Regions from separate parts of the Homo sapiens genome. Here regions 1, 2 and 3 are each linked to region 4. Evidence: fine-mapped expression QTL. A gene starts in region 4. Each other region holds a variant in brackets. All regions are shown on one strand. Distances are from middle to middle.

What was found. PIP is the estimated chance that this variant, and not a neighbour inherited with it, causes the effect.
Region 1: its variant is fine-mapped to the expression of CMTM8 in whole blood (TOPMed, PIP above 0.99).
Region 2: its variant is fine-mapped to the expression of CMTM8 in whole blood (INTERVAL, PIP above 0.99).
Region 3: its variant is fine-mapped to the expression of CMTM8 in whole blood (TOPMed, PIP 0.93).

Annotation. Positions count from the first base shown.
Region 1 is chr3:32,277,619-32,283,540 of GRCh38, reverse strand. All of the region lies in intron 1 of CMTM8 (CKLF like MARVEL transmembrane domain containing 8), which reads right to left. Among named protein-coding and RNA genes, the nearest start is that of CMTM8, 42 kb to the right of the region's middle. The variant A/G (reference allele first, on the strand shown) is at 2,304.
Region 2 is chr3:32,299,486-32,305,407 of GRCh38, reverse strand. All of the region lies in intron 1 of CMTM8 (CKLF like MARVEL transmembrane domain containing 8), which reads right to left. Among named protein-coding and RNA genes, the nearest start is that of CMTM8, 64 kb to the right of the region's middle. The variant A/G (reference allele first, on the strand shown) is at 2,550.
Region 3 is chr3:32,255,966-32,261,887 of GRCh38, reverse strand. All of the region lies in intron 1 of CMTM8 (CKLF like MARVEL transmembrane domain containing 8), which reads right to left. It also overlaps the pseudogene KRT18P15. Among named protein-coding and RNA genes, the nearest start is that of CMTM8, 20 kb to the right of the region's middle. The variant G/A (reference allele first, on the strand shown) is at 2,904.
Region 4 is chr3:32,235,914-32,241,835 of GRCh38, reverse strand. It overlaps CMTM8 (CKLF like MARVEL transmembrane domain containing 8), which reads right to left and starts at 3,156. Exons shown (of 4, transcript NM_178868.5): 1 at 2,717-3,156. The coding sequence starts at 2,863. RefSeq lists a silencer at 3,143-3,352.

The DNA of each region.
Region 1 (5,922 bases), 42 kb before region 4:
AAACTGTCGCCATCCTGTTCCGCAGGCTCCAGCTCATGCATGGGGAAGGAAGCTAACTCCCGGGGGACGTGCTGGTCACATTACATGCGCCTGCGATGTGAGCTCCCCGACTGCAGCACAGAAGCCAGATAGCAAGCGCTCAGTCTGAAGAGAAGAAACTCAAATGACTCTTCCCCCAATTGGAGCCAATTCACAAAGTTTTGCTGTATGACACGTTATAACATGATAAAACGGACTATCCCAAGGTGGAAAAGACAGAGAAATGTAAATACAGTAACAACAGTAATAGCAGGGACAAGATGACCACATGCTTCCCAAGGCTAAAGCAGGGATTCTCAACTTTTTTCATTATCATGCTCCCCCTAAGCATTTATAAACATTTCCTCCCCCTGTATGAAAAACTATTTTTCTTTCAACATTTATTTAGTGCGTGTTATGTGCAATTTAAGTACTAGGGATACAGCAATGAAAAATACAGTTTCTACTCTCACATAACTCATGTTCTAGTGGAAGCATCAGACCAAAAAAACAGTACATACATCAGATGGTAACAAATGCTATGGAAAAATACTAGGCAGGCTAAGGAGATAAGGGTTAACTTATTACACAGAATGTTCAGGGAAAGGAGGTGCTGAAATAAGACCTGGAGAAAGTGGGTTCTAGGCAGGGAGAAGAGAAAATACAAACACCTAGAGCTGGAGCATGCTTGCTGTGTCACAAAAGCAGCAAGGGGGCCAGAGCAGCTCACCCAGGAGTGGAGCGCAGGATATAAGGTCAGAGAGGTAAGGGAGGAACCCATGGGGTCTTGCAGACTGAAACTGAACAGACTGGCTCTCTCACTCCAAATGCAATGGGAAGTGGAATATCATGACACATCTTACCAGGATATCTCTGGCTGTTGTGCTGAGAGCAGACCGGTGTAGGGGGTCGGTTATAGGCAGGGAAATCAGCTAAGAGGCAATATAAAAATAATACAAGAGAGGATGTTAGTTTGGCTGAGGGTGATAATACTGCAGGTGGTAAGAATTGATAACATTCTGGGTATATATTTTTTTAATTTTTTTCTAATATCGCCAAATCACCATTCTCATAGCTAAAAATAATTAATGATAATATCCAATATCCAGTCAATATTCAAATAACCCTGATCATCTCATAATTATTTTATGGTTGCTTGGATCAATATCCAAATATGGTACATATATTGCAACTGACTTTTATCTCATAAATCTCTTTTAATCTATAGGCATCTCCTCTATTCCTTTTTCTTTAAAATTTATTTTTTGAAAAAACTGGGTCATTTGTCCCGTACACACAATCTAGATTTTGCTGACTGTGTCCTCATGGGTTCTTTTAATATGTTTCTCTGTTCTCTGTATTAACCCAAAACTGATACTTAGCCTGAGTTGCCTATGAGACATATCAGAAGAGATGGTGAGTGGGCAGATACAAATCTGGGATCCAGGGGAGAAGTCTAGGCTGGGGCTAGAAATGAGGACCTATAGAGAGAGTTGAAAGCCATGATTCTGAGGGAATGAGTGTAGACGGAAAAGAGGAATGTTCTAAGGCCTGAGCCCTGGCACTCTTGTATTTACAGTTGGGGAGATAAGGAGGCACCAGGAAAGAAGATGAGGTACACATCCAGTGAGATAAGAAAAAAAAATTAGGACAGTGACCTTTGAAGCCAAGAAAATAAGATATTTAAAGGATTGAGGGGAGGGGTCAACTGTGTCAATGTGGCCTTCAGGCTCAGTATGATAAGCACTGAAAGTTGACCATTTGGCTTGGCAAAACAGACGTCACTGGTGCCCTTGGTAAGAGCTGTTTGGGTAGACTAGTGACAAGGCTGATTGGAGAGGGTTCAGTCAGGAGCAGGTGGGATGAGAGGAATTAGGAAATAAAGACAACTCATTCAAGAAGTTTTGCTGCAAGGTGGAGCAGAGAAAAAAGGTGACAACTGTTGAAGAATGAGGGACATATCTTCTGGAGGGAAGATATGTTACAGTTTTCAAGATGGCATTCATCACAGCATATTATCTCCAGGAAATTTTAACATCTCAGATAAACTGTCTATTTAGATACTACATGTATATATGTACTTTATTCATTTAAAAAAGGTAAGATTTCCCTCCCTACCCCCAAGAACCAGTTTTTGCTCCCTTGCAAGCAACACCACCCCTTGATGAGAATGCATGTGCTAAATTAATCAAAACGTTCCAAGAGAAGAGACGAATCCAGCTGCCTGACTCTTCCAACTTTTATTAATGTAAAGAGTTCTTTTGATGGGTAAGAGAAATATTTTC[A/G]GGTACAGTGTAGCCACTAGAGAGGTGCCAGGGAAAACAGAGCTTACAGCTAAACATGTGCTCCTACACAAAATCCTGCCATGGTGGGCCTACAAGGTATCTCTACATACTAATAGTCATACACAGGAGCATCAAACCTCAGGATTGTCCCCATGCAGAGATGGGGCTTGGGGAGTTCCAGGATAACTCCCTTCAGAAATAGTTGGGTGCACTGAATTAACAGTCTACCATTTAGAGTCAGGAAGATCTGGTGTGAATCCCACTTCTGCCGCCTCCTGGTTGTGACCTTAGGTCACGATAATCTCTCTCACCCTCAGCTGCTTTATTTATAAAATGAGACAAAGGTAGTTCCAAATATAATTGTCACTTTTTTTTTTTTTTTTTTTTTTTTGCCTATTTTCTCTCGTGTTGGAGACCTACCTTTCCTTCAATGTAATTTGAGTAGGGTCGACTCCACCCCAGGTACCAGAAGTAGACAGATGACCCAGGTATGGCCAGACTACTTATGTTACCAGTGACGGGTCTTGACTGTGAGTCATCCAGGTTCTTGGCACTTTGAGCAAAGAATTGGACAAAACACACAAATGAAGCAATGAAACTACAGATTTTTGAAACGAAAGCACACTCCACAGTATGGGAGTGGGCTCAAGCATGCTGGTTATGGAATTTTCTGGGGTTTAAATACCTTCTAGAGGTTTCTCACTGGTTACTTGGTTACAGCCTATGTAAATAAAGAAGTGGCCCATGACCAGTCTGATTGATTGCAGAAGGCAACCAATCAAAGGCTGAAGTGAAGTTACAAAGTTATACCCCTATGCAAATAAAGACTAGGCCCACGACCAGTCTGATTGGTTGCAGAAGGGGACCAATCAGAGTACTTTCCATTTTCCATCTGCCACGAAGAAAAAGTGGGTGGGGGTGCAAAGGAAGTAGCTTATGATCCTTTTGTTACTTGGGCATGGAAAGTTGGGGTTTTCCTTTTAATTCCATTCTAGGAAATCAGCGTGAATCAGCCTTAGGTTCCCTGCTTCCAGACCCTATTCTCCCCCCTCACTTATGCCTGGCCACATTGACTGGACTGAGAATGGCCATGTGACCTGAGCTAGGTCAATCAGGGACTTCCTCCTGATTGGTGGCCACTACGAAGTGCTTGGTTACCACTATGAAGCAATAGATTTATGGTTTCTTAAAAAAATCACTAATTATATTGACAGTGGGGTGTTAAAGTCTCCCATTATTAATAACAGACACTTCTCAAAAGAAGACATTTATGCAGCCAAAAAACACATGAAAAAATGCTCATCATCACTGGCCATCAGAGAAATGCAAATCAAAACCACTATGAGATATCATCTCACACCAGTTAGAATGGCAATCATTAAAAAGTCAGGAAGCAACAGGTGCTGGAGAGGATGTGGAGAAATAGGAACACTTTTACACTGTTGGTGGGACTGTAAACTAGTTCAACCATTGTGGAAGTCAGTGTGGCGATTCCTCAGGGATCTAGAACTAGAAATACCATTTGACCCAGCCATCCCATTACTGGGTATATACCCAAATGACTATAAATCATGCTGCTATAAAGACACATGCACACGTATGTTTATTGCGGCATTATTCACAATAGCAAAGACTTGGAACCAACCCAAATGTCCAACAATGATAGACTGGATTAAGAAAATGTGGCACATATACACCATGGAATACTATGCAGCCAGAAAAAATGATGAGTTCATGTCCTTTGTAGGGACATGGATGAAATTGGAAACCATCATTCTCAGTAAACTATCGCAAGAACAAAAAACCAAACACCGCATATTCTCACTCATAGGTGGGAATTGAACAATGAGATCACAAGGACACAGGAAGGGGAATATCACACTCTGGGGACGGTGGTGGGGTCGGGGGAGGGGGGAGGGATAGCAGTGGGAGATATACCTAATGATAGATGACACGTTGGTGGGTGCAGCGCACCAGCATGGCACATGTATACATATGTAACTAACCTGCACAATGTGCACATGTACCCTAAAACTTAAAGTATAATAAAAAAAAAATTAAAAAAAAAAATCACTAATTATAAGAAAAATACAGAACCGTGGGTGGCATCTTTGTCATCATCATGCAGAGAAACTCTTTCTAAGAATGAAGCTTATTCAGAAGAAAGCACAGCCAAGACACTGAGAAGAGAGACTGAGTCCTGCTATCTATTGAACTCCTGGTTCCAGCCATACCTGAGGCTTGACACATAGCTCAGCTTGTCAGATACACGAGCCAGTAAGTGCTCCTCCTTTTTGTTGTCATGGAAGCCAATTTAGCCACGTTTCCATCATCTACAGCTGTACAGGCTGTGACTAATACACTATTTCACTGTTAGATATTAAAAATGCTTTTAAGTTCTAGGAAGTGTCTTTCACTGAATGAACACTCAGTAAACAGGACTGACCCTTAGTCTGTTATGTACCCAGTGCTGTTCTGGGCATCAAGTATATAAAGGTAAGTAAACTAAAAGGTATTATGTAAAATTGGCAGCTTATATATTAGGATGGTTAACAGAGATAACTCAATTTGGGAAGGGAAGCATGGGGCTGCGTTATCCTGAGAAGGAGTTTGCCAGGCCTGAAAGGGAGGCCAGGTAATTCTAAACAGAGGCGGCAACAAATATAAAAGCATGGAGGTGTGTTGAAAGAGATGATCAGGGCACAGCTGAGAATGCAAACTCAAATGCCTACAGGGACCAAGCAGGTAACATAAATGAGTGAAACACATCAGTTACAAGAAAATAAATGACAATGACTCTTGACCTCAATTACGGGAAGACTGGAGAGAGCTGAGAATAGCAGCAAATAGGTGACTGCAAGGCCCCTCACAGCACAGAATATAGTTTGTCCATACCATCCGCTCTCACATTCTGCCTTTAGTAAGAAGTGGGTTTTAACTATTCACATGGCCACGTAGATGAGGACCACATTTCCCCAGCTTCATCTGCAGTCAGATGTGGCCATGCTGTACATTCTGACCAACAGGATGCCAGAGGAAATGATACATGTAACTTCCAGGTTGGATCTTGAAGAAAGGGATCCTCTACTTCTCCATCCTACTGAAGGCTGGAGCAGACAGGATGGTGGGAAATGAAGCAGTATCTTGGATCAGAAGATGGAACCCACTGCAGAGAACAGGGAAAACCGACAGAAGTGGGCAGCGTCTCTGACACCACGGAGCTATCATGTCTGCCCTGGGCAATTAGTGCTTTGACTGTCATGACAGAAAAACAAGTTTCCACCTTGTTTAAGCCACTTGTTTTGGTCTTTGTCACAACAGTCAAACATGCATCTTGACCAACACTCTTACATGCAGAGGGCAGCCACTTCTTGGCTCCAAAGGATTACTGCCATGAGGAACTATGGGCTCAGTATTGTGCATTTGTCCAATTTTCCAAGAGATCATGGAAATCTAGATTTTCTTATAATATCTGATATTTACTTACTGGCAACTAATTCTGATTTTCAACACTGTATAGGCCAACACAACTGGTCTGGGGCCCAGTATCATTTCTGGTCCACAGGCCTCTCCAAAATAAAGACTTCATTGGAACAAGTAACATAACTTCGGGTAATAG
Region 2 (5,922 bases), 64 kb before region 4:
GACATTTTGTACCTGATGCCAATACCACCCTCCTAGTTGTGACAATCAAAAATGTCTCCAGTCGCAGGAGAATGGCGTGAACCCGGGAGGCTGAGCTTGCAGTGAGCAGAGATCACGCCACTGCACTCCAGCCTGGGTGACAGAGCGAGACTCCGTCTGAAAAAAAAAAAAAAAAGCCTCCAGTCATTACCAAATGTTCCCTAGGGAAAAAAACTGCACCCTGACTGAGAACCACTGCCTTAGCCGCTTGAGTCCATAAAGCCACAACTCGAAGATGGCTTTGTAGAAACATTTAATATGTTTGAAACAAAAATGTTTGAGATTAGGAATTACATCACTCTCTACCTAATGCCGCCCAAGGGAGATTTAGATTGCCAAAATATTTCTGTCTTAAAGAGATGGTTCTCAGCCACTAGCCCAAAACTAATGTTTTAGTTCACTACCCTATGGGGAAAGATTAAATACAAAATTCACTTGAGCTTTCTCATCTATGCAGAAATATTCCTCCTCATAAGCTTTAGTCAAACCTTTTATTTACAAAGTTTAAATCTGTCTCCTTAAGTCAATGGCATAGGCTGCTGATTTCTGTTATACTGCAGAAGCTGTTTATCTAGCTGGACCTGCTAAAGCAGATGTTCCTACTCTGTACTATTAACTGGAACATGAAAAACCAACATGTAACCAAGCTGAAAGAATTCTGCCTCATTTATCTTGTGTGTGCCACCAGGGCAAACACCAGGCATTTTAATAACCTCATCTGGACCTTCGGTAATCATTGCAGGCTACTAACTCCAGACAAATATTTGCCTTGGAGGTTTCTCTATGGAGAGACAGAAGTAAACTAAGCTTCTTTTGTTCATATAGATTGAGTATGACAATCTAGAAAATACAGAGCACTCACATCATTCATTTCTTGTAACTATACAAATAAAGGAGCAATGGAATTGATTCTACAAAGATCTGCTGGAATACATTTCCTTTATACTTTTCCTTTCCCCCATGCCATCTCCAACAACAAATCAAAGTACAGCTGAGAAGAACATCAGTGGATGTTACAATCAGAGAGGCCAAGGCTGTTGGGGGAAAATTCATTCTCCTTGTCTCAGAATAGGACACCCATTTTCAGCCCCCTGCCAACACCCAAACTTTTACATGAGAATAGGGTCCCTTTTATAAGACCTGGCAGATGCTACTGTAACTAAGTGACCAAACTTAGCAACACTGATTTTGGTACAACCAATTATCATGCGATCACAACCAGATACATGCCAGCACCACCTGGGCTGTATTCTTACCCAAATGGTCTAACAGGCTGAGGATTTTTCTAGATTAAAGGTGACTAAAGAAACATGGCAACTAAAAGAAATCTGTCGATCCTTGACTGGATCCTCAAACAAAAGGCTGAAGTAAAGGACATTCTTGGGACAAAGTAGAAAATTTGAATATGGACTGCATCACATATTAGTGAATTGATGCTAAATTCCTTGAGTGTGATGAAGGTATTACAATTAATTTAAATAATTTAATAGTTATTTAATGATTTTTGGTAAATACATACTGAAATACCTAGGGAATAAATGTCAGGCCTGCAACTTCCCAGTGGTTTAACAACAACCACAACAAAAATAAGATCACACACATTCACACAGCGAGAGAAACCAGATGTAAAAAAATGTGAGCTGGCAAATGTAAGTGAGGAGTCTACAAAATTTAAGCGAAGGAGTCTATATTGTTCTACTTTCCTGCAGATTTGAAATTTTTCAAAATTACAGTTGGGAGGGGGAGGGGGGAAGCTCGGTTACCATCAATGTGTAAACAAGCCAGAATGTTTCAGAAATGAAACATACGGGAAGAAAGTATGAGAACCAAACAGTATTTCCTGCCTCAAATTTGAAGATAAGCGACCCAATTTACTTTTAAGTGTTTGGAGGCATAAGATAAAAACAAAAACGAAACACCTGAATCTAAACCAACACATTTGACCCTGTCACCACATTAAGAACGAGCTGAACTCAGACATTTTGATGCATCAGAGTTCTCAAAAATACTAGAAATATCTCACTGATATGATAATGGCCTTGAAGATTTATGCAGATACGAAATGAATTCCAAGCAAAGCATTAAAGTAATCTTCATAACTTGTTAACACAACTGCTCTCAAGAGAATGTTGAGAAATCTTGCCAGGAAAGGCCTACAGTTCCCAGCAAGCAGTAACTATCAGCAACTTAAGAAGACAAAGATCTTTTTTAAAAACCTTACTTATTTGCAACCTACATTTGTTTTGGATCCTAGACGCCTGCAATTTGGACACTCAATTTAGAGTTTATGTAATAGTGATCAAAAAGGATTTGCTGGAAGGGAGAAAGCTGTGCAATCGGGCATGTGATTGTAAGAGCTGGGGGTCAAAGAGACGAAATTGGTTTAATAAAACAAAATGGGGCCACCTGGGTATTTAAGTGTGAGACCAGGTCTCTCTCCAAAGACAACAAAGTTCTACATCTAATGCCCCAGGGTTCCTTTGTTCAAATTCAGCCAATCTCTTCATGCC[A/G]TGGGTCTTAAAAGATCCTGAAGTTACAGACTTCAGGTACTTGGTGTGTATGCGCACAGGTACTTCATACACTTCGTGTGTGTGCGCACAGGTTTCCAAGGAGAGGGACCTTAGCTTTCTTCTTTTCTCAACAGATCCCTCACCTCCTCAAATAGGTGAAAAACCCATGCCTTGTGAAATTTGCTCCAATTTCTTCTCTGGGCTTGAAAAACCCAGGGAAATCCTAGCACTCACAAGTCCACTTCTAAATTCAAAAGGGCCTCTGATTCCTTCTCTTCTACTTCCATCTGTCTCACCACTGTTCCAGCTTTGTCAGGGGGCCAATCGCCTTTTGGGAGCCTTGTTTCATCTAATCCTCCCTTAGGCAAGGAAATCTTTGCTCTCAGACTTAAAACTAACTTTGAACTGGAAAGTGACCTAAGATGTCGGGAACAACCATAAACTGAACAGCATACAGAGGCAGAAAATTGCATTTTGTACTTTTCTATCCAATGCTGTGCTACTTGTTCCAATAAAGAATTAACTTCAAGGTAGTTATTTTGTGGGGGTATTTTGTTTTGTTTCTGAGACAAGGTCTTTGTCACCCAGGCTAGAGTGCAGTGGTGCAATCATAGCTCACGGCATCTCCAATTCCTGGGCTCAAGCAGTCCTCCCACCTTAGCCCCCACCTCCAAGTAGTTATGACACGTGCCACATTTCAGCTAATTAAATTTTTTTTTTTTTGTAGAGACAGGAATTGCCCATGTTGGTCTCCTGCCTTGGCCCCCCAAAGCGTTGGGATTACAGGCATGAGCCACCATGTCTGGCCTATGCTATTCTTATTAAGAAAAAAAAAAAAGTCAGCAATCAGTGATCACTCTTAATTCCACCGAAAGGAATTTGGGTCTATTCTATTTTTGTTGCAAAAATTTTAGCACCAGAAAGAATATTAATGACTATGAATTCAAGCTTTTCATTTGACATATGCAAAAACAAAAGTACTGTGATTTACCCAATGTCACATGGCTGGTTAGCCAGACTCGAAATGGAAACCTCTTGACACTCAGTCCAATGTTCTCTGACATCACCTGCCTTTTCACACCAATGCCCTCTGAAAAATACTATTTTTCTTTCTTTTTTTTTTTTTGTTTCATATCAATGATAAGAACTGCTGGATGGAAACCAAAATCATTCATGGAAAACTGTATGAGATTTCAGGAATCCCCAGTGCAATGTCACCGATGCCGGGATGAGTCATACTGCAGCTTGATCAAGTCCAGGTAGACAGAGGACCCCTCCCAAGGGCTGTGTCTCCCCTATCCCTCTTCATCCACCACTCTCCCTTGACCACTTTCTGCACCACTGGCAGGAGGGAAAGATAAGGTGGAATCCTTTTGCCCATATATTGAATGATTATTTAATTGCCCTGTTTCTAGTTTTAAAAACAACAGGATAGAAATTTATATATTGTTATTTAAAATGTCTTATGTTGCTTTATATATATATATACAGCTGTCAAAGTATAATTTTTTTTTGAAAAGGTCAGCTCTTGACTCATATAGAGTATGCATATGCTAAAGATTCTGTAACTTGATGAGTTTGTCAACTTAAGCAGAATGACAAAGCTGGCTCAAAGGTGGATGGCACAGAAACCTAAGTAGGGCAAAAAATCTGTGGAAAGATGAATGCCGGGATAAGGCTGGAAACTTAGAAACAAACCGGGTTAATGTCCTACCTGGCATATAGCAGTACCCCTGATGCTCCTTTTCTGCCATAAGAAATCCTTCCCATCTTAACTGGACAAAAATCATTTGCAATTTATTAATCTCAGCCATTTGTTTTTATAAGACCTGCAAGTGAAGGATGATTTTTATATTTTTAAATGGTTGAAAAAAATTAAAAGATTTTTTTTTTTTTTTGAGATGGAGTTTCACTCTTGTTGCCCAGGCTAGAATGCAATGGCAAAATCTCGGCTCACCACAACCTCCGCCTCCCAGGTTCAAGCAATTCTCCTGCCTCAGCCTCCCAAGTAAATGGGATTACAGGCATGTGCCACCACGCCCAGCTAATTTTTTGTATTTTTAGTAGAGATGGGGTTTCTCCATGTTGGTCAGGCTGGTCTTGAACTCCCGACCTCAGGTGATCCACCCACCTCAGCCTCCCAAAGTGCTGGGATTACAGGCGTGAACCACCGTGCCCAGCCTAAAAGAATATTTTATAACATAAAATGAAATATGAAAATGCTATGAAATCCAAATTTCAGTGTCTCTAAATAAAGTTTTATTGGAACAGTGTTAGGGCTCAGAAGACAATACCCTAAAGTAAGGGCTCAGAAGCAGTTTTTCTCTGACCTTGTCCTGCTTGCCTCTCAGCCTCATTCCCCCTTTCCCCCAAAAAGGCAAGCACAGATATTAGAATCCCTCTTCCCCAATGGAGATCATGGAAACCAAAACCCTTTTCCCCAAAGCCAGCCATAAAATCTAAAAATTTCCCCTACTTTTCTGTGTAAGAATTGGCCACAAAGAAATAATCTGACTGACCTTGTTTGGTTGTAGTTCATAAGACCCCCATTCCAGAAAGGGTCCTGCCCCATACCTGGAAGGAAATTATGCTGCAGAGAGTCCAAGAAGAATCTGAACAGACAGCCCTTGCTGGGTTCCCCCGCTCAGCCTATTAGCATTAGATCACACCCTTTTGGTCCAACCACAGTTCCACACAGCTATCCATTCATCATCAAACTGAAGCATAAAAATGGATAGCTTCCCCTGTATCTTTGGGTCTTCGATCTGAAGACTGCTGTGTCACGCAAAAGTATGATCAAAGAAATGTGTTATGCTTTTGTCTGTTAACCTTTTTGTTATAGAGGTGCTGGCCATGATTTTTATGATGGAGAAGAAAGGCATCATCCCTTTTCAGCACCTACAGTGGCTGTATCCATTCAGTTATGTATTACCCGTGGCTGCTTTCACACTATGATGGCAGAGTTAAGTAGCTACAGACAGTACATATTTTGGCCTACAAAGCCCAAAATATTTACTATCTGGCAGTCTGCAGAAAAACATTGCTACATTTTCCCCTAGATTATTAGATGATCTTTGCTGGGTTTGTCAGACAATGTTCTAGTAGGATATTAAAAGGGCACTCAGTCATCTTCCTGAACTTTTTTCTAAGTTTCAAGTACATTTTTCTTGAAGACTACCGTCAATGATAATTTAATTATAAATTTAAAAATAAAGAAGAGTATAACTGAATCATTTGTAACTCAAAGGATAAATGCATGAGGGAATAGATACCTCATTTTCCAAGATGTGATTATTACGCACTGCATGCCTGCATCAAAACATCTCATGTACCCCAGGTACATAAGCACCTACTATGTAGCCACAAAAATTAA
Region 3 (5,922 bases), 20 kb before region 4:
TCTACTTTCCCATGAAAGGGACATATTACTAGGCTGGCACCATGAATCTCATGGGTGTGTACAGAGGATGGACAAGCAATCGGATGGCATTTGTTTCACACTGAACTCCACAAGGGTGTGGTTGACTCATTCATGTGTTATTTAAGAACTGTTTCCTCAAATCATGGTTCAAGTAGAAATGGAAATGAAAGAAAGGAGGGATTCCCCATAACCTGGGACTGGTTTATTATCAACTGAGACAATGAACGTGAAAACCCTTTAAATGGTAGAGTGCTCATCTAAGGAAAAGTACGGGCACCTTCCTAGAAACAGTGCTACTCATAAATCTTAGCAAAAACAAACAAACAAATGGTATTTTCCTGTCAAATTTTAGATTTAACCCTCTCTATGGGGTGAATAAAGGACCAAATGCCTACAAGGAATAAATGCCTCTTGAATTTCACCTCAAATTTGAAAACTTGAGTTTTTCCTACTATAATTTAATATATTTTTAAGCATATTTTTCTTTACATGTCTTAATTCCTATAATTGATCATTTGTTTAAATAAACATAGAAAGGTGCTATTTACCACTATATTCTAAGGGCTAGACACAGATTCTGGCACACGGTAAATATTTAACACATTTTTATGACAATACACAAGATATGTATTATTAACTTGGATTGTAAAACTCATAGCATTTTGTTTTCTTAGTTTTTATTCTTTTTTTTTTTTTTGAGATGGACACAGTCTCACTCTGTCGCCCAGGCAATCCTCCTGCCTCAGCCTCCCAAGTGTCTGGGACTACAGTCATGCACCGCCACACCTGGCTCATTTTTAAATTTTCTGTAGAGACATGGTCTCGCTACGTTGCTCAGTGTGGTCTCAAACTCCTGGCCTCAAGCAATCCTCTGACTTTGGCCTCCCAAAGTGCTGGGGTTACAGGCATGAGCCACTGTATCCAACCTTCATAGCATTTTAGACTGGGAAAGACCTTGAGGAGCTTAAGAATGAATACTAAGACATAACCTGAGACAAAGAAATAGCTGAAAAGTTTCCCTCTTAGGAACTAGGGTAGTATAAAATGATTTTCCCAAAATTAATCTATGTGTTATATAAAAATCCAATATAATCTAACAAAGGAAAGGAGGCACCAGCTGTGACTGTGAAAAAAATTATAAAGCTCTACTTGAAGAAGAAACATATAAACATGTGAAAACAGGGGGAAAAAAAAAAAACTTTAAAAAAATCACAGCTGGGATAGATTATCCTATCAGATGTTAACATGTAATCTAGAACTACAGGTATTAAAACATTGAAACAAAGAGTAGAACAGACTAGAAAGTATACAGTTGAACCCAAGCACATACAAGTAGTAAATGAAAAACAGAAAGCAATCCAGGTAAGGGAATGTACAATGAATTTACCAATATGAAATGTTGGGACAACTGAGTAGACATTTGAAAACAAAATTAGAGCCCAACTTTATATTTCTGCTGAAATGCATTTCAATATTAAAGTTAAATATTTTAAAGCACATGAAAAATATAGGCAAAATATTAACGTATAGTTCATTATATTTAGCTTTGTTAGCGAGATAATACTTTTTTTTTCCAATGACCTCTGAACTTTTTATTGGCCTCCTGATCCCCAAAGGGTACCCTGCTTCTGCTGGCTTAATGTCTCAGAACTTTGGTGTCGTTGGTCTCAGACACCACTTTGCCATCCACTCTCCGGCAGGTGGTGGTCTTTTGGATGGTTTGCATGGAGTTGCTGCTGTCCAGGGCATCACCAAGATTGAAGTCCTCGCCATCTTCCAACAGGCGATGGTAGCTGGCGATCTCAGCCTCCAGCTTGACCTTGATGTTCAGCAGGGCCTTGTACTCCTGGGCCTGGTGCTGTCCCTCTGCCTGGGTCAGTGCCAGCTCTGACTCCAGGTGCAGCAGGATCCCGTTGAGCTGCTCTATCTGCAGGGTGTAGCGGGCCTCCACCTCCCTCAGGCTGTTCTCCAGGCTGGCCTTCACATTTCTCATGGAGTCCAGGTCAATCTCCAAGGACTGGACTGCATGTCTCAGCTCCGTGAGTGGCATCTCAGCAGCTCCAACCTCGGCGGACTGTGTGGTGACCACTGTGGTGCTCTCCTCAATCTGCTGAGACCAGTACTTGTCCAGCTCCTCTCAGTTCTTCCGAGCCAGCTCGTCATATTGGGCCTGGATGTCTGCCATGATCTTGGCAAGGTCCTGAGATTTGGGGGCATCTACCTCCACGGTCAACCCAGAGCTGGCAATCTGGGCTTGTAGGCCTTTTACTTCCTCTTCATGGTTCTTCTTCATGAAGAGCAGTTCCTTCTTGAGAGCCTCGATCTCTGTCTCCAGCTGCAGCCGAGTGACATTGGTGTCATCAATGACCTTGAAGAGCCCATGAATGTCATTCTCCAAAGACTGGCACATGGCCAGTTCTGTCTCATACTTGACTCTAAAGTCATCAGCAGCAAGACAGGCATTGTCAATCTGCAGAACAATGCGGGCATTGTCCACAGTATTTGAGAAGACCTGAGCCCTCAGGTCTTTGATGGTCTTGAAGTAATGGCCCAGTCTCTGACCTGGGGTCCCTTCAGGGGATTTTGCTCTCCAGCCTCCAGTTCACGGTCTCCAGGCTCTTCACTTTGTCCAGGTAGGAGGCCAGGCAGTCGTTCAGGCTGTGCGTGGTCTCCTTCCCGCTCTGGATGCCTCCCATTTCTGCCAGACCCCTGGCCGTCCCTGCGGCCAGGTCCCCGGACCCCATGCCACCCTGGAAGCTGGTGGAGCAGGACACGGTGATCCGGGAACCAGAGCCACCCCCTGCCCTCCGGCGCCTGCATAGATGCTTGCTGCACTGCTGACTGGCTGGATGCCAGTAGCTGGGCCCCTGGACAGAGCCCAC[G/A]GACTGGCAGTTGGAGGAGAAGGTGGAACGAGTGGTGAAGCTCACGCTGTCCGGGGGCAGTGGGGTGGGGAAGCGAGGGGACAGAACTCAGGCTTTGCCGACATGTAGTGAGATAGTACTTTCTAAGGATGACACCCAACATGGGGAAAACAGTAAGACTGAGAGATTTGAAGATAAACTTTAGATTTTGTAAATAAAGTCACTATGGCTCTTTGGGAGGCCAAAGCAGGAGGATTGCTTGAGCCCGGAAGTTTGAGAATAGCCTGGGCACCAAACTGAGACCCCATCTCCACAAAAAATTAAAAAAATCAGCCAGGCATGGTGGCACATGCCTGTAGTCCCAGCTACTCAGGAGGCTAAAGTGAGAGGCTCACTTGAGCCTGGGAGGTCGAGGCTTTAGTGAACTGTGATCATGCCACTGCACTCCAGCCTGGGTGACAGAGCAAGACTATCACAAACAAAACAAAACAAAACAAAAAAAACAAAGCACTGTAAATAAAACTAAGGGACAAGCTAGAAAAAATATTCACAACACAGAAAGAGGGTCATTATTCCTTATATATGTTCAAAATGTCTATAAGTGAATAACAAAACTACTGAACTTCTTTGTAGCTAGGACCTCTTTATCCTTCCCAAATTCCACTGAAATGTCTCCCACTCCCAAATTAAAAAAATACGTAGTAGTGCCGAAAAGCTAGAAAGCAGCAACAGCAGTCTGGAGCAGTGAGAACTTCCTGGAAGGCACTTGAGAACAAACTATGATAAGCAAGGGAGTTTCTTGTCTGCAGCTCTGGAGCAGAAAATAGAGGACCTACTGAAAAAAACAGTCCTCCAAACAGACCCCCAGATAAACCAAAGATTAGAAGCAATAACCAAAGTTGGAGAGGGAATGAGTTAAGGGTAATCTGCTAAAGAGTACATTTAAAGCCCCCCTCCCTCCAGCAGCGACTTCTGGAAATAGTCCCCAGGATAAAGATTTGAGATTTCCAGATGCTTCAATAAGCTATTTGCACACATCTTAAGAAAGCCCATGCAGCCCCACTACCCTAGCTTCCCCCTCCCAGCCCTGCCAATATTTCCTTTCCTCTGAAAAACCACCAGATGCATATCACACGATGAAAACCTGTATTCACTGCCGAGGTACAGAGATTCTCACTTAAGCTGAGCAAACAGTCTCCAGTCATCTCATCTACTATTACAAACATGGACAACCATTAATCACCAAATGACTGAAGAAAACAGCACAGGAGAAGCAACAGATTCAACAAGCAGAAGTGGTCTCTCGGTAAACAAAGAAAATACACTCAAGATCCTTAAAGTGATTCAATAAAAAAGAGATCAGACTAAAAGCAAACATTTTAGAATGACTAATTGTTGGGAATTAAAACTATTAAAACCATAATAAAGCAATAGATGGGTTGAAAGGCAGAGCATACTTAACTGGAAATTTGAATTTGGGCTTAAAGTGTAATTTTTCTAGAAAATTACACTATTTGCAAAGTACAAAGAGAAATATGAAAGAAAAATTAGGAGATATTGAAGACAGTTTAATCTCTCCTGGACCTCCTGGATTGAATAAAGATTCCTTTAGTGGAGAAAACAAAGAACCAATGCAGAAAATAAGAGAAATCTCCCTATGCCGAAGCTAGATTTGTATAGTACTTATAAAGAGCCCAAAAAGTGGCAAGGAGGACAAATAAAGAATGCCTTTCCAGTGTTGTGGCTCACTCCTGTAATCCCAGCACTTTGGGAGGCTGAGGTGGGTGAATCACTTGAGGTCAGGAGTTTGAGACCAGCTGGGCCAACATGGCAAAAACCCGTCTCTAACAACAATACACAAATTAGCCGGGCATAGTGGCCATGCCTGTAATCCCAGCTACTGGGACATAGAATTGCTTGAACCCAGGAAGCAGAGGTTGCAGTGATCTGAGATCATGCTTCTTCCAGACATACAGTGGTATCTAGGGAGATATCACCATAGATCCCTGAAGATAGGGAAACAATTTCAAAAGCTTCTAGGGAGGGAAAAAAGACCATTTAGTTACTTAAAAGGAAAAGAGAACCTGATTCCCACAGAGGAGTGGATTTGAAGCCCAGTGAAAGCTAGCCCTCTGACAAACATTATAGAAGTTACAGTTTACTGCAATAGATGCAAGGAATATATTCTCAGCAGGGAACACCAGGAAATATCAGGCTAGAGCTGTCTTGAGAGAAGGAACTTTGTCTCCCTAAGTCCTCCCAGATTAGAGTGAGGGCAGGGAGAGATCCCACCAGGACTTGGGAAACTCGAAGGAAGCCTTTAACAATCTTTTATTCCAAACCACATCAACCTGAAGAAACTTCCCTATAATTATCTTACATGGTTACAAAACTGCCTTTCATAAGCCATTTCTCCTGTATATAACACTCCCATTTCACCTACAATTTATTGCTACACCACCAGTGCTACATTTGCATGGGTAGTAGTGCAAGACATCATTCACACAAGACTCTGCTGTAACGAAGTCTGTGGGAATGCACATTCATGAATGGACAAGGTCTGGGAGGTACTGAGCCTAACAGGCCTGTTTAGATACTACCAGACCATCAAGTCTCTTATTAACAACACTGAATGCAGCCAGGTACAGTGACTCACACCTGTAATCCCAGCACTCTGGGAAGCCGAGGCAGAAGGCTTCCTTGAGCCCAGGAATTGGAGACCCGCCTGGGCAACAAAGTGAGACTCCTATCTCTACAAAAAATAAAAAAAAATTATCCAGGCTTGGTGGTGCACACCTGTGATCCCACCTGCACAGGAGGCTGAGGCTGCATTGAGCCATGTTTGAGCCACAGCATTCCAGCCTAGGTGACAGAGTGACACCCTAATAACAACAAAACAAACCAAAAAACAAAAAACACTGGATGTTAGAAGACAATGGAACAATATCCTCAAAGAATTAATTTTAAAAAATTTTCTTGGCTGGGCACGGTGGCTCATACCTGTAACCCCAGCACTTTGGGAGGCCAACGCAGGCGTATT
Region 4 (5,922 bases):
TGGGCAGGAAAGGAAAAGCATTCATAGTCTACGCACTGGGTCAGTTGTAAGTGGTATTTACAGTGTCATAGGTCAACACTGGCTGCTGATCTAACCCAAATCACCTGAAGACTATACAGATGCCCCTTGACTTAACAATGAGGTTACATCCTGATAAACCCATCCTAAGTGGAAAGTATCCGAAGTCAAAAATGCATTTAATACCCCTAGCCTACCAAACATCATAGCTAAGCCTAGCCTATCTTAAACGTGCTCAGAACACTTAGGTTAGCCTACAGCTGGCAGAATCACCCAGCAGCACAGCATGCTGGAGAGGATGGGTGGTTTGCGCTGGTGATGGCATGGGTGGCTGAGAGCTGACCAGCATCATGAAAAAATATCTACCGAATATCATTAGCCTGGGAAAAGACCAAAATTCAAAATTCGAAGTATGATTTCTACTGAATGCATACTGCTTTTACAACATCTGTAAAGCTGAAAATTCCTAAGTTGAACCATCAGAAGTGTTTGGACCTATATTGGGAGACAGGAAGAGGGTATGTATAATTGGAGGCAGGGAAGAGGGCATCCCAGCTAAAGCCTCATCTTTCAGAGTAGAAAGGCAATGGATAATGTCTATGACTGGGTGGGTGAGGGAACACCAATAAACAGCATTATAAACACGTTGTTTAGAGCTCAAAGAGATGAAGACACTGGGAGAAACTTATATTTCTGCCTGTAGGACCGAATCTTTAAAATATGTGCATAAGGTGGGGCACAGTGGTTCATGCCTACAATCCCAGCACCTTAGGAGGCCAAGGCAGGAGGATTGCTTGAGCCTAGGAGTTTCAGAGCAGCCTGGGCAACACAGAGAGACCCCGTCCCTAGAAAAAAATTAAAAATTATCCAAGTGTGTTGGTGCATGCCTGTGGTCTCAGCTACTTGGGAGGCTGAGATGGGAAGATCGCTTGAGCCCAAGAGGTCAAGGCGGCAGTGAACCATGATGGTGCCACCGCACCTCAGCCTGGGAGACAGAGCAAAACCCTGTCTCAAAACAAAACAAAACAAACAAAAAAGGTGCATAATTAGCTCTGTCAAAAATAAAAACTATAGTAGTAATAAGGGTGATTTTGCTTACATGTTTTCCCATCTTTTTCAAAACGCTTAATGAAATCTAAAAGGATACATGCTAACATGTCAACAGTGATTATTTCTAGTAATGGGATTGTGGGCCACTTACATTTCTTTCACTTTTGTATTTCCTGAAAAAGCGCAGTACACAGAGCATATCGATAATAAATCAGAAAAAAACCCAAAGGCGTTATACTTCATGCCTGGCCCAAATCCACCCCAAGGTAGAAGGCCCATCTCTGTCATTTTAGCTTTTGTTTGCGCTGCTGAAGCAGAGGAGCCTGCCAACTCCTTCATTTGCACAGCAAATATTTGTTGAACTCCTAAAAGCTAGGCCCTGCAAGGCGATTCCAATACCTTCAGCTTTTGAGTCTCCTGAAGTCCTCAATACTCGCTGAGGGAACCAGCTGGGAGAGGAGCTAAGCCAACACTTCTCATACCTTATGTGCATTATGACCACCAGGGGCTTCATAGAGCAGGTCCGGGTGGTATCTGAGACTGGGGGAGCAAGCAAGCTACTTGAGGTACACAAGATTTACTTCAGGTTTCTCAAAGGAACCGCCCAGGTCTTCAGTCACTTCTGCACCATGATGGTGTGCCCATTCTCTAACTCCCACATAGGCTCATTTTCAATTCCCAAATATTTAACAAAAGTCTGTGAGAGATGACAGAGGGGCACTGCTGGGGCAGCTGGAAGCTGTCTCAACTGCTTGCAGTTATGAGCACGGCCCTGCAGAAAGGCAGGCCTGGGTTTGAATCCATGCTTCACCATCCACCGGTGTGATTTACGTCCCCTCTCTAGGCCTTCACAGGGGAGGGTGGTCGTTGGATTACACGAGGGTATGAGGACATCTAAAGGGCTTGACAAGATCCTGGTACACGAAGAAGACTCAAACAGTGACCACCTCTAACTGCTGACAGGACTCCAGTCCTTTCTCAGCTATGAAGGACTGGCTGGGACTTCTGGGAAGATCACGTGAGTTTTCAGCCTCTATGCCCTCCAATGAAGAGAAGAACGCCCATGCCCTGCCTCCTTCCCAGGAATGTTCTGAGCCTAAACCAGGATGTGCACAGCACCATGCAAAAGACCTCTTTGGTCCTAAAATAGGTTATGGCACTCAGATTTTATTCAGTAAAATTTTCCTGACTCACCTCAATGTTACTACCAGGGAGATAATTAGGAAAAGAAAGAAGCCCTTTCCTCTTCCCCTGATCTTAGGAAGCTTTATTTTCAGGGAGGAGGCCATCCACGTGGAGATCAGGTGAGAAAGGCACCAGGTGTCTCTGACACTCAACACAAACTCAATAGCCACTAAGCCAAGCTTCCTGCTCCCAGGATCTGCCGCCGCCACCGAGAGGACCCAACAAGCTGAATTTCTCCCACAGCAAGACATCCTGAGGATCACAACCCTTTCTTCCCAGGACAGCCCGAGTTTCCTGGACCTTGTTTAGAGTCTTTCACTTTGGGAAGAAGGCGAGGCTGAGCAAAAACGGTTCCCTAAAGCCCGCGGGAAGATCTGAGCAGGCTCCATCCCGAGAAGCACGGCGGAAGCACGCGCCGGGGTCCAGCTGAGCCCCCCGCCACCCCCGGCCCGTCGGCACTCACGATCTCGGCCACGATGAGGAAGCCGGGCAGGGTGCGGAGGAACTCCCGGTCGTAGGCGAAGCTGCTGCTGCTGGTGGAGAAGTTCTCTGCGAAGGAGCTGGCGGTGGTGGTGACTGTGTGCGAGCGGGCGCGCTGCGGCTCCTCCATCGTCGAGCCACTGCCGGGCTGGCGCGTCCCCAGGGACCCCGGCGGGTCTGGGGCTGGACGCGCGGCCCTGCGCCCTGGGGACACAGGCGCGGGGGAGGGGAGCGCGGCCCGCGCGGGGCAGGAGGTGCGAGGGGGGCGCCCGCCGGGGGCTGTCCAGGCGCGGCGGGTGTCCCTCTAGTGCGCGGTGCCCCTAGCGCCTCGGTGCGCGGGCTCCCGAGCTGCGCTGGGGCCCTAGAGGAAGAGGAGAGCGAGCGAGGGGAGGCTGCCGGGCAGCCGGGGAAGGCGGTGGAGGCCCGGAGGAGGGGAGGGGGCGGGGAGAGGGGCGGGCGGGAGGCGGGCAGGAGAGGGACCGCCCCGCGGAGGCGCCGCGGACGCCCGCCCTCTTCACCTGTTGCCCGACTCCCAGCGGCGGAGAAGGCGCCGCGTCGCACCCAGGGTGGCTGGGTTGGCAGCCTGGCGGGCGGCGCGGAGGAGAGGGCGCAGGGGTCCTTCTGGCCGTCTTCCGCTCCCCCTCCCGGCCTTTACTTCTGTCAGGCCCCGCCTGGCCCAGGCCCGCAGCCTGTTTCCTTCCACCTGGGCGGGTCGGGGGCTGCGGGCATTGGGGCCCCTTAAGGAAACCCAGGCCTCCAGGGACTCCGCCGCTCCAGGACTCGGCGCGGAGGGAATGACTGAGCGACGACCGAGGCAGGGGGTGATGTGGTACCTCGAATGCTGTGGAAATGGCAGGAATGATGACCCGGCCGGACCTTAGACCCGAGATCGATGAGAGGCCGCCAGCACTGCCCGGGAGACGGCCCGCTCTTCTCCCCCTCCTGCTGCGGCCGCCGCCAGAGCCCGGTGTTATTTCCTGCCCCTCCTGTCGGGAACAATTTGAGGAACCAACTTAATCGCTTGGCTTTGAGGGCGCGACGCTTCCAGGCGCTCTCCGCGGCTCTGTCCCGCGGACCGGTGGAGCCTGGGTGACGGCGCCTGGGCCGGAGGAGGGGAGATGTTTGGGGTCCCTGGCCAGGATGAATCAGCGTAACCGTCCCGTCACCCTCGGGGAAAAAAAATGTTTCAAGAAGGCTTGAAGGGTGTGATTTGTGTAATGTTAACTTTAGGACAAATGAGCTGTGCTTTCCTGGCATGGGAAGGGGATGGGGGTCCTCATTTAGTGAGGCAGTTTGTAACAGGGTCAGGGAAGAACTGAGCTCGGCTGCGTGCGTTTATCGGCTGTATGACCCAGAGCGAGTGGCTCTAGTTTTTGGACCTCAGTAATGCCATCTCTAAAATGCAGGCTTTGACAGATGGACCTCTGAACAAAAAGATTATCTTCCGCTTGGTCCCTCCTTCTATTTTGTGAAAGGGTAGCAAGAAACATTTTATCTGGAAGCCACCAAAAGAAAAGGAAATAATCTTTGGCTATAAATCGAGGGTATCTTTGATTCACAGTGAAGGCATTTCTGCTGATCTGTTCCAAGACAGGTTAAAAACGAGATCAGAAGGGACATTTTCTTCACAGTGTCTTATCAAGTGTGCTGAGAAGAAAGCAAAAACGACAATCTAATAAAATAAAACAAGGAATTAGTGTCTTTTAAGTCTAGGGCCTAGCCAGGAAGACCTCCAGGAGTAAAAGTTAAGGCTTCAAAAGCATGGCAAAGATGTAGATTTGGAGAGATTCCATCCATGTGCATTTGGTAAGCACCTTGGGCTGGTGGGTAAATTCTTAAAATTTAAAATATAGCACTTCTCCCTGGAGCAGTAGTTCTCAAAGTGGTCCTTGGACCAACAGCAGGTAAGTTCCCTGGGAACTTATCAAAAATGCAAGGTCTCAAGCCCCACCCCCAGACCCTCTGAATCAGAAACTCTGAGGGTGGAGCCAGGAAGCTGTGTTTGAACAAGCCCTCCAAAAGACACTGATGCATGCTGAAGTTAGCTGCTGCTTTAGAGAAACTGTTAATGAGTTTGGGGAAATAAGAGATACATACATGAAATGGCTGGAGGAGACTCAAGCATTATGCATGACATTTAGTGAACGTAAAAGACGGAGTCTAGACAACTTTATTTCCATAATATTAACAAAGGACAATCCTCTCTTAAAATTCCTGGGGTCAGATGAATTTCTAAATTCAGATTTTGTTTTTCAATTTAGAAAGGTAAAATGTGCATGTACCATATATTACATAATACCTTTGGTAAGGTCTGGGGTGACACTCTAATATACTAATTTTCTGCAAGGGAAATCATGAATGACATAAGTGTATGCTTGGATTATCTACTGCAATGTAATAAATGTTCACAAAATATTAGTGGCTTAAAATCACCATTTTATTTGCTCAGAAATCTGTTGTGTCAGGAATTTGGGAAGGGCTTGGCTGGCAGGTTCTTCTGCTTTGCATGGTGTGATTGGAGTCATTTACTCAGCTGCTTTCAGTTGGTGACTTGGCAGGGCCAGAAAGTCCAAAAAGTCTTCATTCCCATTTGAGCATTTCAGTGCCCTTTCAACTTGGGCTTTCTAACAGTATGATAAGCTCATGGTGGTTGGACTTCTACCTGGCAGCTGGCTACTGGAAGAGACTTTCTAAGAGGGGCAAATGCAGAAGCAGATCTCTTAAGGCCCAGCCCTGAAGGTTACACGGACTCATTTCCACCACATTCTATTGGTCTAAGCCAATGAATGACAAGGCCAGCCAGAGTCACGCAGAGGGGAAACAGATACCACCTGTGGATGGGAGGAGCAGTAAAGAATTGTGGCTGTCTTTTAATCTAGGTGAGATAAAGACAAAGACAATAAATAGCTTCACATCTGTTTAGGTTATGTTTTTCTACCAAATATGTTTTCTGCAAGCTCAGGAAAAAAAATTTTGGTTTCAGCTTTTGGGATTTCAGAATCACAGAGAAAAAATTATACACTGGTTGCTTGAAAACTAGCTGCCCCTTTCCAACTGCTGCCTACATTTGGGTGATTATCTTCCACCTGAAACTCTACTGATTGGTGCCCATTCTTCCAATAACACCCTTATCCAGTCCACCTTCCGTCTTCCTGCAAGAATTATTGTCCTGAAACCCCAGACTAAGGT